4 separate regions of the Homo sapiens genome follow, and all the other regions are reported to be linked to region 4. Evidence: microRNA targets listed by miRTarBase, many of them from high-throughput screens and not tested one by one. Region 4 holds a microRNA gene; each other region holds the end of a gene's coding sequence.
Evidence for each region. Region 4 holds the annotated microRNA hsa-miR-4711-3p (CGUGUCUUCUGGCUUGAU, at 2,951-2,968, opposite strand). A microRNA usually pairs through its seed, bases 2 to 8, with sites in the 3' UTR of a target mRNA and lowers its output. Matches are read on the target gene's strand: a 7mer-m8 pairs with bases 2 to 8, a 7mer-A1 pairs with bases 2 to 7 and ends in A, and an 8mer does both.

Region 1: the mRNA of ORC4 is a reported target of hsa-miR-4711-3p. Seed matches in the 3' UTR shown: 8mer at 2,800-2,807.
Region 2: miRTarBase lists KIAA1671 as a target of hsa-miR-4711-3p. The part of its 3' UTR that is shown has no 7-base or 8-base seed match.
Region 3: the mRNA of AP4S1 is a reported target of hsa-miR-4711-3p. The part of its 3' UTR that is shown has no 7-base or 8-base seed match.

Annotation. Positions count from the first base shown.
Region 1 is chr2:147,931,742-147,935,820 of GRCh38, forward strand. It overlaps ORC4 (origin recognition complex subunit 4), which reads right to left. Exons shown (of 14, transcript NM_181741.4): 14 at 1-3,957. The coding sequence ends at 3,769. Among named protein-coding and RNA genes, the nearest start is that of ORC4, 87 kb to the right of the region's middle.
Region 2 is chr22:25,190,250-25,194,328 of GRCh38, reverse strand. It overlaps KIAA1671, which reads right to left. Exons shown (of 13, transcript NM_001145206.2): 12 at 3,545-3,627; 13 at 1-1,923. The coding sequence ends at 3,549. Among named protein-coding and RNA genes, the nearest start is that of CRYBB3, 7.6 kb to the left of the region's middle.
Region 3 is chr14:31,092,319-31,096,397 of GRCh38, forward strand. AP4S1 (adaptor related protein complex 4 subunit sigma 1) reads left to right here. Exons shown (of 6, transcript NM_001128126.3): 6 at 589-4,079. The coding sequence ends at 717. Among named protein-coding and RNA genes, the nearest start is that of STRN3, 68 kb to the left of the region's middle.
Region 4 is chr1:59,730,285-59,734,284 of GRCh38, forward strand. MIR4711 (microRNA 4711) reads right to left here and starts at 3,012; the gene lies at 2,943-3,012. The region is part of intron 14 of FGGY (FGGY carbohydrate kinase domain containing); the gene reads left to right. RefSeq lists an enhancer at 633-927.

The sequences.
Region 1 (4,079 bases), not on the chromosome of region 4:
GACAAAATTCAACAACCCTTCATGCTAAAAACTCTCAATAAATTAGGGATTGATGGGGTGTATTTCAAAATAATAAGAGCTATCTATGACAAACCCACAGCCAATATCATACTGAATGGGCAAAAACTGGAAGCATTCCCTTTGAAAACTGGCACAAGACAGGGATGCCCTCTCTCACCACTCGTATTCAACATAGTGTTGGAAGTTCTGGCCAGGGCAATTAGGCAGGAGAAGGAAATAAAGGGTATTCAATTAGGAAAAGAGGAAGTCAAATTGTCCGTTTGCAGACGACATGATTGTATATCTAGAAAACCCCATCGTCTCAGCCCAAAATCTCCTTAAGCTGATAAGCAACTTCAGCAAAGTCTCAGGATACAAAATCAATGTACAAAAATCACAAGCATTCTTATACACCAACAACAGACAAACAGAGAGCCAAATCATGAGTGAACTCCCATTCACAATTGCTTCAAAGAGAATAAAATACCTAGGAATCCAACTTACAAGGGATGTGAAGGACCTCTTCAAGGAGAACTACAAGCTACTGCTCAAGGAAATAAAAGAGGATACAAACAAATGGAAGAACATTCCATGCTCTTGGGTAGGAAGAATCAATATTGTGAAAATGGCCATACTGCCCAAGGTAATTTACAGATTCAATGCCATCCCCATCAAGCTACCAATGACTTTCTTCACAGAATTGGAAAAAACTACTTAAGTTCATATGGAACCAAAAAAGAGCCCACATCGCCAAGGCAATCCTAAGCTATGTGTTCTTAAAGAGGGGAGTGGTAGCTTTGTAACTTACAGTGAGGCTTACACCTTGACAACTGCAAGAATGAGGATAGTGGTGAGTGAAGGGAGATTTGTTAATTATGGCATTTCCCTCTATTATCGTCTAAACAGATTATATTCCCACTAAAGTATGTGTGTTGGTCCTGCCAGTATTAGAAACCAGAGGCTTGTTGGCATTGTGTCACACAGTACACACCAATGGATTCTCAGATTTTCTAGGGTAAAGGTGAAGGATGGGGCAGCACTTAGGTTATGGTGGTTTGAAAGAAACTGAATTGCTTTCTAAACCAGATGAGGATCAGAGTGCGAACCATGGTGAAATATGCATGGAAACTACAGAAAGACTGAAGTGTTTCTTACGGTGTTTTCTGCAAAACGTGATTCATTAGGACATTAACAGGTATTACGTTTTCAACATATACAGCATTATGATACAGTAAGTTTGGACCAAACAGGTATTCATTCCCCAGAGCCTTTCACATGCACGAGAATCAGTCATTTTAACAAGAATTCCGTTTCTGCTGGGCCACTTGGATCCCTTGGATTCAGATGTAAAAACACACTGAAATATTCCTCCTTTCACCTGCTTTTCAGTTTGAGGTAATCAGATTGAAAAGCAGGAGTTCATGCATTTTTTGGTTCTATTTTTCCTCCTCTAGTAAATGAAGAAAATAAGCTATATGTATAAGTTTACATTATTCTTGAACCGCTTTTTAAACTAGGGTTTTTCATATTTGTTTTTATTGATGACAATTAAAGCAATTTAAGAGACGAAGTTAGCTCAAAACTCTTGCGAATAGATTTTAGCATTTTTGTATGAGGGAATATGGAAAGGCCAACAAGCAGCACTGTTCCTCCCCACAAAAATGCCTTGGGAATATAATAGGCGTACACTTCATTTGTGTAACTTTTCCTAATGTATTTTTTTTTAATTTGCTTTATAACGGTTTCATGTTTACCTCAATTGGTACTTAGTCTTAAAATCTTTCTTTATACTTGGTTATTGATGGATCTTCTGCAGCTCTTATGTAGCCAATGAGACAGATGAGGGCTGTCAGCTTTTAAGTGACATCTTAAGCTAATAAGAAATTGGAATCCTCAAGTCATTTCATGAGGCTGTTACCCTTTAAGACAAATAATACTTTCCTCAAATAGTTCAGAAAATTTTTAAAAGGATCACTTAGAGCATAAGTGTAAAATTCTTGCTTCTAGTATATAATAGTGATGTTACCATGTCAAGTATTTTGGTGAAATATCCCCTAAAAATGTGTAGACTACGGCACAGATTGAGTATGCAAGCCTTAGCTTGAATGAGACTGCTGAGAAGTAAATGACAGGGATCTGAATACTTAGCAGGCTTAACTTTTTGCAGGGAAGGAAAGGCTATGTATGCAAAAGAATAGGTTGTAACTACTGAAGAGCTACTTTATGCTCAGAAACCTTTTATTCCACTTTGTATCCAAGATTTCATTAAAACATTGTTCCTTAGAGCATACTTTAAAAACTATTTGGTAAGGAATCCACTGTTGAACTTCAGGTCTTAATAGCACTGGCTTTGGTGCTAAACTGAGTTGAATTCCAAGCCTGTTGGCCATTCCCAGCATTGCCACTGCTGTGTTAGTTTTCTCATCTGTAAATAACTGCCTACATCTCACAGGGCCTCTAATAGTTAAATAGATTGTAAGCTGCACAAGCATAGGGACAGTCTGTCTTTTGTAAACCTCCCATGCACACAATAGGAAATCAAATATTCTTGAACAAATGAAGTCACTAAGTGCTCATTAAATTTCATTTTAAATATATGCCTCTGTTAATTCATGGATCTTGGAACTTACTTAAAAGACAATGCTTTGACGGACATTTCCACATTCCTCATAGGGATTTACTTTTTAATACAAACAGGTTCAGTTAACATTGCCATACACATCTCATTACTTTTGGGAGTGCTTTTCCAGAAATCTCTGGTAGTCACGTCACTTCATGATGGGGCTACGTTCTGAGAAATGTGTCTTTGGGTGATTTCATCACTGTATGAACATCACAGAGTATACTTACACAGACCCTGATGATATGTATATAGCCTGTTACACACTTAGGCTATACAGATAGCCTAGCCTATTACTCTTCAGCTATAGCACTGTACAGAATGTTACTGTAATCATACTGTAGGCAACTGTAACACAATGGTAAAACATTTGTATATTTAGACATAGAAAAGGTACAGTAAAAATATGGTATAATCTTATGAGACCACCCTTTATACAATGTCATTGACCAAAATGTTACGTGGTGCCATGACTATACTTGTTAAGAAGGAAAATTCCAGTCCTTTTGACCTATGGTAGGCTCAACAATCTGTAATTTTAGAAAATCCTACAAGGGATTCTGATGTGGATGGTATGAGTACCACATTTTGAGATGTCTAGAAGAAAAATCTTCAAACTCCTTGGCCTTTTTCTTCCATGGAACCATCTTCTGACTAAGCTGGTTAGTCTTCTGAACTAGAAAACCTGGGTCTGGGATAGAATCCAAAATTTGCATGTGGACAGAAAAAAACACTGCAGCAAACCTGCTGTACCAAAGGTTACTTATTATACTTCAGTGCTTACCATTGTTTTTTTTACTCCTTTGGTTTAAGGTTTGTAAAGACATCTAGCTGTTAGGTTGAAGTGAGCTCTTCAAATAGACCATTATATATATAAGTGTTAAAAAAGCACATGGTCTAGTCCCTAAAACAGTCATATTTTATTCTTCTGAACAGCTACTTACAAAGTAATCTCAATCAGTGAAATTATAAATCATGTAACTGTTCATGATTAAAAGGCAAGACACAGCCAAGACAGTAGATGGGCAAGTCTCACATAAATACAAGAATGTTTATAGAATGTTTAGCATATCATGTTAATGGACAATAGTTTTCCGTTCTCTACAGAAGTATGAATGAAATGCCAAAGTTGAAGTCACTGGTTATATTCATAACCAGCTTAGTGAGGATGTTGCCCACTGCCTCACATCTGTAGGACAGTTGGGATATTTCTGCAGAGCATTCATAATTTGAGTATTATCCAAAAGCAGTTTCATCAGCTGGTACTCTCTCTGTGAATTTCCTGAAGTTCTTTCCATGGGCTTTATTAATTCTAATTGCTGCAAGTGTTCAAAAGCCTGAAAGATGAAAGAAATAGTTTAGGTTGAATAGGAGAGGAGAGTGACAACTCTCCTGTTCTCTCCCAGAGAACAGTTAGCATTTTGGTCAGCTGCAGAACAGAGTACTGGGAAGCAAAATG
Region 2 (4,079 bases), not on the chromosome of region 4:
TGAGGAGGGACAATTGCTTGAGCCCAGAAGTTCGAGACCAGCCTGGGCAACATGGTAAGACCCTTGTCTCTACAAAAATATTTAAAAATTAGCTGGTCATGGTAGCATACACCTGTAGTCCCAGCTACTTGGGAGGCTGAGGTGGGAGAATCACTTGAGCCCAGGTGTTAGTGAGCTATGATCGTGCCACTCCACTCCAGCTTGAGCAACAGAGTAAGACCTTGTCTCAGAAAAACAAAACAAAACAAAACACTAGCAGGGTATTTTTAAAGGGGATCCTATTGACGTTGAAAGCCATAAGATCAAAATTATTATAAAACATAAACTGGATCTTTAAAAAAGAATTCGACTGAAGCAGTTGCAGGCATGAATCCCCAAATGGCCACGGAGAACTGATGACTAATTCAGGGAATGAAGAGAAAACAAACTATCATCAGCAGGGCCAAACTCCCAAACCCAGATGCATGAGGCTCCCAGGTGTAAAAGGCTGGGTGGGTGACATGATCTGGCAATTGCTCATCAGTAACCAAAGCTCATCGAACAGGACACAAGGTGGGCTCCGGCCTCACAGCCCTGCAGTTGCTGTCCCTGGTGCTGAACAGCAACTGCCTCACCAGGGCCCAGGTGTTTATCCTAACCTAAAGAAACAGAGGATTTCTATCCATGCCCATCCACCCACTAAGACAGAGAAGAGGGGTAAAGGAAGATGAGGGAGGAAGCTGAGACAGAGAGACAAATGAACTCCTGAGAGGTAGCCAGGGAGAAGGAAAGCATGTTTTGACAGCATTTGCAAATAATGGATTCATCAAGAAAGATGAAGGAAAATGAGGTGAGCAAAAGCAAAAAGTACCCTTCATTCATGCATCTGTTCTGAGGCCAGTTTGGAACAACTCCTCCATGCCAGCAGCCCACGTCATGTTCAAAGAAGACTCTGGAGAAAAAGATTACTAGGGCAGGTCTGATGATTCATAAGCAAAGGCACCACCACTTGGGCTGCAGTTTATGAACCCTTAAGGCCAAGGGGCAAAGGTCACCCTACCGAAACCAGAGCTCAAATGAAAAGAAGCCATGGAAATAAATACAAGAGTGACAATTATAACTTCTAAACAGCTTGGATAGGGATAAGATAACCTGAGGTGACTGGATACTTCAGAACAAATTATTCGCACATCTTTCCTCCTGTCCTTTAACGTAAACACATATATACCTATCAAGTTTCAAAGAAAATTAGCTGAATTATTGCTTTATCGCCTTCTAAAGCAAACAAAAATGACATACAATAACATAGGCCAACGATGCACACAGCCCCACTAGAAAGAGAAATACACATAATCAGGGAGAGTATGTTTAAAAATTGGAACTGCTGATTCCTCAAGGGGAAGAAGGAACTCACCAAAAAAAAAGAATAGAAAACCTCAACCCAGCGGTAATACCCTGCACCGAGACTACAGCAGAAAATGAACAGTTTGATCTTCCTTGGAAATGTCCTTCCAAAAAAAGACCTGCCCCGGGGTCGGGTGAGGAGGTGCTTTCACAAATGCAGGTGTTTTTCAGAACCTGGGGAGACAATTCCAGCCTCACACTGATGTTCTTGGAGCTGATGAAGGTGTCTAAAATAGGTAGAAATGCAAATTTTTACATAAAAAGCAAAACCACCCACATGGACGTTTCTGGGCAGCCTGGCTCCTTTCCCAGCCTGAAGTGCTGTCTGGGGAGATGAGCGAGTGCTCCTGGAGGTTGGGTCTTCCCGTCTGGATCCAGGGAGAGCCTGGCGAGGACAGGGGCACTGGATAGCGTTCTCAATCCAATGGGAAGGGCCCAGGCACGTAAGCGTTGTGCAGGAAGAAACGGCAGCAGCTCGGCCTCGTCTGCGGGTTCTGATGGTTAAGGCTTCTGTTACGTAGATGTGGCAGTGTTCCCTGCCTGGAGAGGAAGGGACAGTACTGGTGTCAGCAGTGGGAACATTTGGCTCCATTGCTCTCTACCCTCAGTCCTTAAAATCTCACCTGATATTCTCCAATGAAGTCACCCCTAGAAGCCTAAGGTCACAAAAGAGATTTTTTGTGTTGGGTGGAAAGGGGAGGTGAGGAGGGTGGCAGGCATGGAATACAGTGAAACCAACATGAAATTTAGGGTCAGGTCAGGGTTCCAGTCTCAATTCTGAGCCTCAGTTTCCTCAAAGGGGTTGCTGGAGGCTTAAATGAGATATTACATGTACTGCACCAAACACAAAATAAACACAGGTCCCGATCCCTTATCCAAATCCCTTGAGCATAGTTTTATTTGGGAATTTATAATTTTTAGTATTTATTATACATACACACATGCATCATACATAATCATGTAATATATACACATATGTATATATATACATATGTAACACCACCATAATCAAGCAGATAATATTCCTGCAGTGTATTATGAACATTCATATAAAGTGGGGAAAATAGAGTCAAAGTAGAATTATATTCACTCAGGTCAGGTTTTACCACTGACTTAGGAAAAAGCTTTGTTTTGCAGGGCTTTCTGGAATTTGGCTTTGTGGATAAGGGATGGTGAGTCTCTTGTGCTCATCACATCAACGCTGACTTTGATGGTGCACGTACCATGAGCTCCTATACTGAGGAGAAACAGGCAGCACTCAGTCAAGCACCACAGGTGCATTCTCAGTGAGCCCTGAGGACAACTCGGTGGTGTGGACACTGCTAACCCATTTTACAGATGAGGAAACTTAAGTTCATGATGTTCAGTCATTTGCAACTTACACCAGGGCCTATCTAATCGTAATTTTTAATGTATATTTTTTCAAATTCATTTTTAACTACATAGGTTGTATATGAAACACTCCCCCTATAAAAACTGTAACCATTTCTGGCCGGGCACAGTGGCTCACGCCTATAATCCCAGCACTTTGGGAGCCAGAGGTGAATGGATCACCTGAGGTCAGGAGTTCGAGACCAGCCTGTCCAACATGGTGAAACTCCATCTCTACAAAAAATATAAAAATCAGCTGGGCATGGTGGCAGGCACCTGTAATTCCAGCTACTTAGGAGGCTGAGGCAGGAGAATCGTTTGAACCCGGGAGGCAGAGGCCGCAATGAGCCAAGATCCGAGATTGCATCATTGCACTCCAGCCTTGGTGACAAGGGCGAAACTCTGTCTCAAAAAAAAAAAAAAAAAAAAGTAACCATTTCTAATTAAGCTAACCTCTGATGTCCCCGCCCTTTTGTTTTATCAGAGGGGACTGTGATGCAGCTAGAAGGGTCAGCCAAGTGCATGAGACCAGAGCCCCAGTCACCTGCCTCCTGGCCTGGTACCTTTCACCCACTCCAGGCAGCCCAGCTTTGTTTTCTCCCTAAATGGAAACAGACATAACCATCCTCTTTACAGGAACTCAGAACACCCCCCACCCCTCATTCTTCCCCTTACACAGCCTCTTTCCTTGGGTACAACAGCCCCAGTCTCTGAAGCGTGGCCCCCCTGAGTTCCCCATTCCTGTGACTGCAGGGCTCTTCCCAGGTTCCCCAACAGAGCCCCTTCATACCTGGTCAAACTTGGTTCTCATAAAGACTTTGCCTCTTCTTGGATTTCAATTCCTTTAGCCACTGGGGAGAGGGTTCATCCGACCTGAAACCACAAAGCCAGTAAGAGACTAGTTGAAACCAGACTGTGGGCTCCTTGCGGGCAGGACTGAGTGGTATCCGACTGTCTATCCCTGGGCCCAGGCGGGGTTGGGGCAAGCACTCAGAGGTGGTAAAGATGCCCATATTAACGGGACTGATAAGCAAGAAGTAGAAATTAACCACAGTGTCCAACAATGGGGAATATTAAATAAATCAGGGGTCCCCAACCCCCTGGGCCACAGACCGATACTGGTCCATGGCCTGTTAGGAACAAGGCCACACAGCAGGTGGTGAGTGGTGGGCGAGTGAGCGAAGCTTCATCTGTATTCACAGCTGCTCCATCACTCACATTCCACCTGATCTCTGCGTCCTGTCAGAGCAGCGGCAGCATTAGATTCTCATAGGAGTGTGAACCCTATTGTGAACTGTGCATGCAAGGGATCTAGGTTGCGAGCT
Region 3 (4,079 bases), not on the chromosome of region 4:
GTGTCTAGCCCCTCCTGAGGAGCCTATAAGCAGAGCAGTCAAGCCCAAGCTTTGGGTTTAAATTCAAACCTGGCATTTACTAGCCATGTGACCTTGGACTATGCTTTGAACCTGTTTGATCCTGGGTAAACTGAGGATAATATGTAACAACATACATCAGAGATTTGTAGAGGGCTGAAACTCAACACACTGTCTGGAACGGGAGTATTCAACAAATCGTTGCTACTGTTACTATTATTGTCTGGGAAGACAACACTATTTTTGAGTTAAGGTCATTCTCTTGCCACATGACACTGCTGTGTTCTCTAGCACTTAGTAGACCCCCTATCCCTTTGGTTAAAAAATGTAGCTGTTTCATTTTTATCCCTACTTATCCTGTTAGCTTAACCAAGGTGAAACTAGGTATGTATATATGAAGGTAACAATTTCTAATATGGATGCCAGTTTTAAATTTAATTTCAGAAATTTTGTACAAAAAACCTCATGCTTAGGCTAATTTACACTGGGAACACTCTAGGTTAAGCCATAAATTTTTACTGAATGTTAATAATTTTTAACTTTAAACTAATTTCCTTAATATAACCGTAGATAATGTTTAATTTGGATAAAGTACACATCATTTTGGATGAGATGGTGTTAAATGGCTGCATTGTGGAAACTAACAGGGCAAGAATTCTTGCCCCTCTACTAATTCTTGATAAGATGTCAGAAAGCTGAAAGGAAGTCTCTTCGAGACAATATGGATTTATCAGAAATGCGAGTACCGTGGAATACATCTCAACATGTTAACCCAGAAGAATCTGGAAGACCACAATTACAAAATGGGGTATCCTTCCAAAGACATTATAAATAGGCATTTTCCACAGTTCCTAAAAAGAAAACACAACTGTACTTTAAAATATGTACAAAGAAAAAAATTTCTTTAAACTGAGAGAGAAGTTTTATTTTCTAATTGTAAACATATCTGTCGCACTTTAAATTCTGTTGAGCACCTAAGGAACCCTTCTTGGTCTATGCTTCTTTTGCAAATTGAATTCAGGAATAGCAGGATGGTAGTGGGAAGAAAGTATGGCAGTTTTCCGTCAGCCAATAAAGTTTTAAAATTTAAACACAAGGCATTTTGAGTAACGCTGTTTTCTGAAAGCTATTTTTTTTTTTTTGAGACGGAGTCTAGTCTAGCTGTGTCACCTGGCACATTCTCGGCTCACTGCAACCTCCACTTCCGGGGTTCAAGCGATTCTCCTGCCTCAGCCTCCGAGCTGGGACTACAGGCATGCACCACCACACCTGGCTAATTTTTGTATTTTTAGTAGAGACAGGGTTTCACCATGTTGGCCAGGCTGTCTCAAACTCCTGACCTCAGGTGATCTGCCTGCCTCAGCCTCCCAGAACGCTGGGATTACAGATGAGCCACAGTGCCTGACTTCTGAAGGCTGTCTTATTCCTTTAAAAGGCTTAGTAAAATTAACTTTTTAAGAGGTGTTTTTTTGTTTGTTTTTTTGTTTTGTTTTTTAAGACGGAGTCTTGCTCTGTCACCCAAGCTGGAGTGCAGTGGTGTGATCTCAGCTCACTGCAACCTCCACCTCTGGGTTTAAGCAATTCTCCTGCCTCAGCCTCCTGAGTAGCTGCGACTACAGGCATGTAGTCCCCAGGAGACTGAGCTGTGATTACAGATGTGAGCCACCATGCCCTGCCCGGTTTTATGTAAAGCCCAGCTAATTTTTGTATTTTTAGTAGAGATAGGGTTTCACCATGTTGGCCAGGCTGTTCTTGAACTCCTGACCTCAAGTGATCCACCTGCTTCAGCCTCCCAAAGTGCTGGGATTACAAGCATGAGCCACCATGCCCAGCCAAGAGGTGTTTTTTGTTTGTTTGTTTTTAAGAGAAGCAGGTCTTGCTGTGTTGTCCAGGCTGGACTGCAGTGGCTTTTCACAAGCATGATCATGTTGTACTACAACCTTGAACCTTCCTGGCCTGGCTCTAAAAGCTTTGTAATGTGGGGCTGGTGCAGTGCCTCACACCTGTAACCCCTGCACTTTGGGAGGCTGAGGAAGGAGGATCGCTTGAGGCCAGAAATTCAAGACCAGCCTGGGCAACATAGACCTCATCTCTACAAAAAATGCAAAAATCAGCCGGGTGTGGTGGCACATACCTGTAGTCTCAACTACTCGGGAGTCTGAGGCAGAAGATTTCTTGAGCCCAGGAGTTCGAGTCTGCAGTGAGCTATGATCGTGTCACTGCACTCCAGCCTGGGTGACAGAGTGAAACCCTGTCTCAAAAATAAAAAAGTCCGAGTGCGGTGGCTCAGGCCTGTAATCCCAACATTTTGGGGGGCCAAGCCAGGAGGATTGGTTGAGCCCATTAGTTCAAGACCAGCCTGGGCAACACAGCAAGACCATATCTCTACAAAAAATAAATAGGTGTGATGGCTCATGCCTGTAATCCTAGTACTTTGGGAGGCCGAGGCAGGCAGATCACTTGAGGTCAGGAGTTTGAAACCAGCCTGGCCAACATGGCAAAACCTTGTCTCTACTAAAAATACAAAAAGTTAGCCAGGCATGGTGGCAAGCACCTCTAATCTCAGCTACTCAGGAGGCTGAGGCAGTAGAATTGCTTGAACCCGGGAGGCAGAGGTTGCAGTGAGCCGAGATCATGCCACTGCACTCCAGCCTGGGCGACAGAGTGAGACCCTGTCTCTAAAAATAAGTAAATAACTAATTAAAAAGTTAGCCAGCTGTGGTGGTGAGCACCTGTACTCCTAACTACTCAAGAGGCTGAGATGGGAGAATTGATCAAGCCTAGGAGTTTGAGGCTGCAGTGAACTATGATCACAACACTGTACTCCAACCTGGGTAATGGAGTGAGGCCCTGCCTCAAAAACACAAAAACAAAACAAAAAAACTTTTATAACATGTACCTAACAAAGATGCAGAGTTAAATTTTATTTGCCAGTTTGTAAAAGCCTTTGATACTCATTTTAAGGGCACTTAGTAATTACAATGCCATTATGTAATTAACTCTATAGAGAACATTACTTTCAAATAATGGATGGTCAGACATTAAGACAGCCCCAGAGAGCCCCTACAGCTATCCTTTATCCCGTTTTTTGTTTGTTTTTTGGAGACAGCATCTCCGTCTCCTAGGCTGGAGTGCAGTGGTGTGATCATGCCTCACTACAGCCTGTACCTCCTGGGCTCAGGTGCTCCTCCCACCTCAGCCTCCTGAGTAACTGGGACCACAGGTGCGCACCCCCTCCACCCAGCTAATTTTTGTATTTTGTTGTAGAGATAGGGTTTCACTATGTTGCCCAGACTGGTCTCGAATTCCTGCAGTCACATGATCCATCTGCCTTCGCCTTCCAAAGTGTTGGGATTACAGGCCTGAGCCACTGTGCCCAGTCTTTTTATGCCACATTTTAAAAGGTTTGCTTATTAATAAGCTTACTGTTAATGAAATTTAGTTCAAAGTTTAAAAGTAGAATGCAGCCAGGCATGGTGGCTTACGCCTATAATCCCAGCACTTTGGGACGCCAAGGTGGGTAGATCATTTGAGGTCAGGAGTTCAAGACCAGCTTGGCCAACATGGTGAGACCCTGTCTCTACTAAAACTACGAAAAATTAGCCGGGCATGGTGGCACGCGCCTATAATCCCAACTACTTGGGAGGCTGTGGTAGGAGGATCACTTGAACCCAGGAGACAGAGGTTGCAGTGAGTTGAGATCGAGATTGTGCCACTGCACTCCAGCCTGGGCACAGAGTGAGATTCCGTCTCAAAAAAAAAAAAAAAAAAAAAAGTAGAAAGCAAGAAAGTGTCTCTGTACAGGTAGGCATGAAATGAATCCTTCTCTTCCTCCCCTTTACTCCTTTAACCCCTTCTCCTGCAATGTCTTGAAGTAAATTACTGTCATTACAGAAGAGCAATGCACTGCATCCCCCCAAAACCTTTCTATATGCTTTTGCTACCCCGTTAACAGAAGAATATACAGAACTGTCTTAGGCGAAAGTATGTACAGTAGTCCCTCTCTTATCCACTGTTTCGCATTCTGTGGTTTGTGTTACTCATGGTCAACTGAGGTCCCA
Region 4 (4,000 bases):
TCACTGATTTGCAGTTTCTTAGCTTTTTTTTTTTTTTTTGGAGTAAGGATGGGATAAATGACTTAGACAGTTTTTACATGTTGGAGCTATAACCACAAGTCTCTACATGTCTTTAATGTACTTGCTGACTTTCCCTACTGGAATGTAAGCTTATGAAAGCAGGGGCCATGTCTGTTTTATTCATAGCTACAGCTTCAGTAGCCAGAATAGCACCTGACTCAAAGTAAGCGGGCCAATAAATAGTTGCTAATAGACTAATTAATCTCTTGGCAGTCATTGAGCATATTGTTATACCAGGCACTGTGCTTAGTGTGGAAAGACATCAGGTGCCTACATTATTACAGTGGTGTGGGGGCAGGGCATGGTGGACATACAACTAAAATAACAATAAACCACAGATCAGAGAATAGGGAAGTTTTAAAGCACTGAGGACACATACCTCATCTAGCCCAAGCAAGAGGGAGGTAGAGGTAAAGCATTGCCAGAGAAGAAAACCATCACCTGAGTTGAGTTGTAAACAATGAGTAGCTGTTAGCCTGTATAGTGGAGAGGGACCCAGCCAAGGAGACAGCACAGACCTGTCAAAGTCCATGTCGGACAACATGCAAAGTGATTTACTTAACCCACCTCATGAACGTTTAGTAGCCCACGCAAGGCAGGCCCCTGTTAACTCACAGGTCAGGAAACTGAGCCTCAGACAGTTTAAGTGACTCGACAAAATGTCACCAATGCTGAGTGATGGAGCAAGTCGGCTTGAGGCCAAGGTCCATTTTCTCCCTGCTACAAAGATGACTAAGCACGACTCAGAGTCTGGTGGAGGAGCAGAACACATAAACAGTCTTTGATGATACCCATGCTCTTTTGAATTTGCTCTATTGTTGTTCATTTTCTTTAAGATTTCAGCCCTAGAAGTAGCAAGCTGAAAATCAGGGCTGCTTTGCAAATGCCCACAAACCACTGAGGGGAGTTTTGTCAAAGAAGGCGGGAAAGAAAAATAAATGTGGGCTTCTGCTCTTTAAACCTCAGCCCAGTGAGGCAGACTTTCCCGGAATACTTCAGGCCTCTTCAAAGGCCTATTGTGGAAAGTGTCCAGATGTGCGTGGAAAACCTCACTGGGAAGCTTCCCGGTGAAGAGGCCTTTTAAGCATGAACCGAGATGAAGGAAGCTGACGCCATGAGTCCTATCAGGTGGCCTTTTTTCTGAAGGAGCCCAGATTTTCCCCTAACCTTAAGAAGGTTGTAGGGGGTTGGGTGATTAGCCAGTTCGTATTCCTTTGATTACAGGAAGCAGTGGGGTTAGTTGTTTTTTGTTGTTGTCTTTCCTTTTTTTGCTGAAGTGAGAAGAGGAGATGGGGGTGGGGGGCATTCTCCATATGATTTATCTACCTGTAAGTTGTTAGTGACAGTCTGGTCATTCCTCCAGCATACCTTGTGAGGGCCAGGAGGGATTTCTGGATTGGATAAAGTTGAGGCACTGAGTAAGTCCTGCTAGTTTCTATGATGATGCCTCTGAGTGTTCTAAGAGTCAGAATCCCCTGGAATCTGGCTCTGATCCCCTGCTCCGAATCCCTGTTTAAGCTCTCTTCCCAATGCCCTGTTTATCCTAGGTTTGAGGCCCCATCTTCCTCTTGCTAGATACAGTTAAGCCAGAGAGACCCAGATTTAAATCCTGCTCTCTCATTAGCTGTGTCATCTTGCACAGAGTAGCATCAGCCTCACCGAGCCTCAGTTTCCTCATCTGTAAAATGGAGGTAATACCAGTCCCGTCATCATCCAGTTGCTGTGAGGATTAAATGAATTGCTGAGTTGCCGCACACAAAGCATCTGGTCCAGTTCCTGGCACAGAGTGAGGGTTCAGTTTATTTTCATTCCTTTTCTCTTTAATCCAGTTGTACAAAGAGGCAGAGCTGTCCCATTTGACCAGAGAATTTTACTTCTGTAGCTCTTTAAATTCTCTCCCCGCCATGTACATATGGGCTTAGCTAAGTATTTTGAGATCACAGTGTATTTAGGGGAAAGTCCTTTTGGCTACAGCTAAAATTAGGCCTCTCTTGTGCTCCTCTGTTTACCACCCCCCTTCCTATTTTAACTAATTAGAGGCATTGACACTAAGAAACACTTAAGAAAAGTTGGAAGAACAGCTGGGAGTTGTTCTAGATACAAGCAGCTGCTCCCTGTCAGCATGCAGGCACAGAAAAGGATGATCCTGAATGGGGAAGTGCAGGGAGGGCACCTCAGAGATGAAGATGAGGAATGGCAAAGTCTGTCTATGTTGTGGCAAACTGAGCAGGGTGGAGTTCTTATCACTCTGTCCTCTACCTTCTGCTGAGAGAAAAGGGGGGTCAGAGATACCAAAGCAGATAGAGGAAAGGGGGGCAAGAAAGGGGAAGGGAAGGAAGGTATTCAGGAGCTTAGCTAGTTGGTTAGTTGATTACTTTATGCAGACCACTGTCGCCCCCACCTAGACCACTGCGGTATCTCCTAACTGGTCTCATGCTGCCGGCTGCTTTCCTGCTGGAACCAGAGACGTCACAGGAACATGCAATTCTTGCACCCTGAAATCCCCGCGACGAGCTTCCACCATGGAATTTAGACAGAATTCCAAAACCCATCACATGGCCCCCGAGTACCTGGATGCACCTTCCCCCTGTTCCCCGTAATTGTTACTGCTCAGTCCTGCTGGCTTCTGTTCATTCGCTCTGCTTCAAAGGACTTTCTCTCCTGGAGCCAGATTGCCTGAGTTTAATCCAGGTTTCCCTACTCGCTACTACTACTTACAGGCCTCTCCATCTCCCTTCCAGCCTTAAACACCTACTGAGCTCCCCTGGAATTCCCTGTCCACGTCCTACACACTCTCCTCATGGAGTCCCCGGGCCTGTGCACCCCCAAATAAAAGTTTCTGTGTTTCCAGATGGCCATGGTGACTGTGCATAAAGCCTAGCAAATGTGCATCAAGCCAGAAGACACGAGACCTTTCCAAAGGGCTCATGTCTTCTGGCCTGATGCACATTTTTGTGTCCCCTGCCCCATCTCCTCCTCACTACCCTCGGGAAACTGGGTGATGTCTCTGTGGGAAGGGCTGAGCCTCAGGCTCTGTATTGATTGTCCAGTGCTGCATTTAAACTTCCTGACTGGATATTCAGAACTTATGCTGTTGTTTTGTTTTGTTTTGTTTTGTTTTTTTGTTTTGTTTTGTTTTTTAAAGCAAGCACCTTCACATCTCAGGTGTAAATGCCAGATCTTCTAACACTTACAAGGACAAATTCATTTCTTACTAAATAGTCAAGCTTAAAACCCACATGACTGGCTGATGTAAGCTTTGGCCTTGTCTGTGAGGAATTTTTGCAACATTATTTCTCTTGATTTCTTTCTTTGTTGCTGCTGTTCTCAGAACAAGGCAAGGCTGAGGTTCTCCTTCTCAGTTACTCCATGTCCCTGAATTAAGCCCTGTGAGATCTAAAAACAGGAGCTCTGTGCACACAGCCGTAAGGACAAACCCTCACTCTGCATCCCCCTAAGTGGGCCACATGCCTAAGCCCAGAAATCTAAGAGTTACTTCTAACAACTTTCTCTCCCTAACACCCTCATCTGGTCTGTCACTGAAGCATGTTTTCTGCCTCCTGAGCATCTCTCATATCTGGGTGATAAGAGAGCCACCTTGATGTCCCCTGGCCCTTGCTGACCTCAGCAGAGCCTTTGGGTGACAGTAGCTCTGGCTTCCCAGGGCCCTTGGAAAGGAGACTGTGGGGTCCGCGTGGTATGGCCCTGCCTGCCTCTTGGTTCTGTTTCACCCACACTTCCCTTCACTCTTATCTGCTCCAACAACACAGCCTTTCTCATTCCTCAAGTATCAGTTTTCTTTTCTTTTTCTTTTTATTTATTTCAGTAGGGTTTTGGGGAACAGGTGTTGTATGGTTACATGAATAAGTTCTTTTCTGAGACAGGGTCTTGCTCTGGTGACCAGACTGGAGTGCAGTGGTACCATAACAGCTCACTGCAG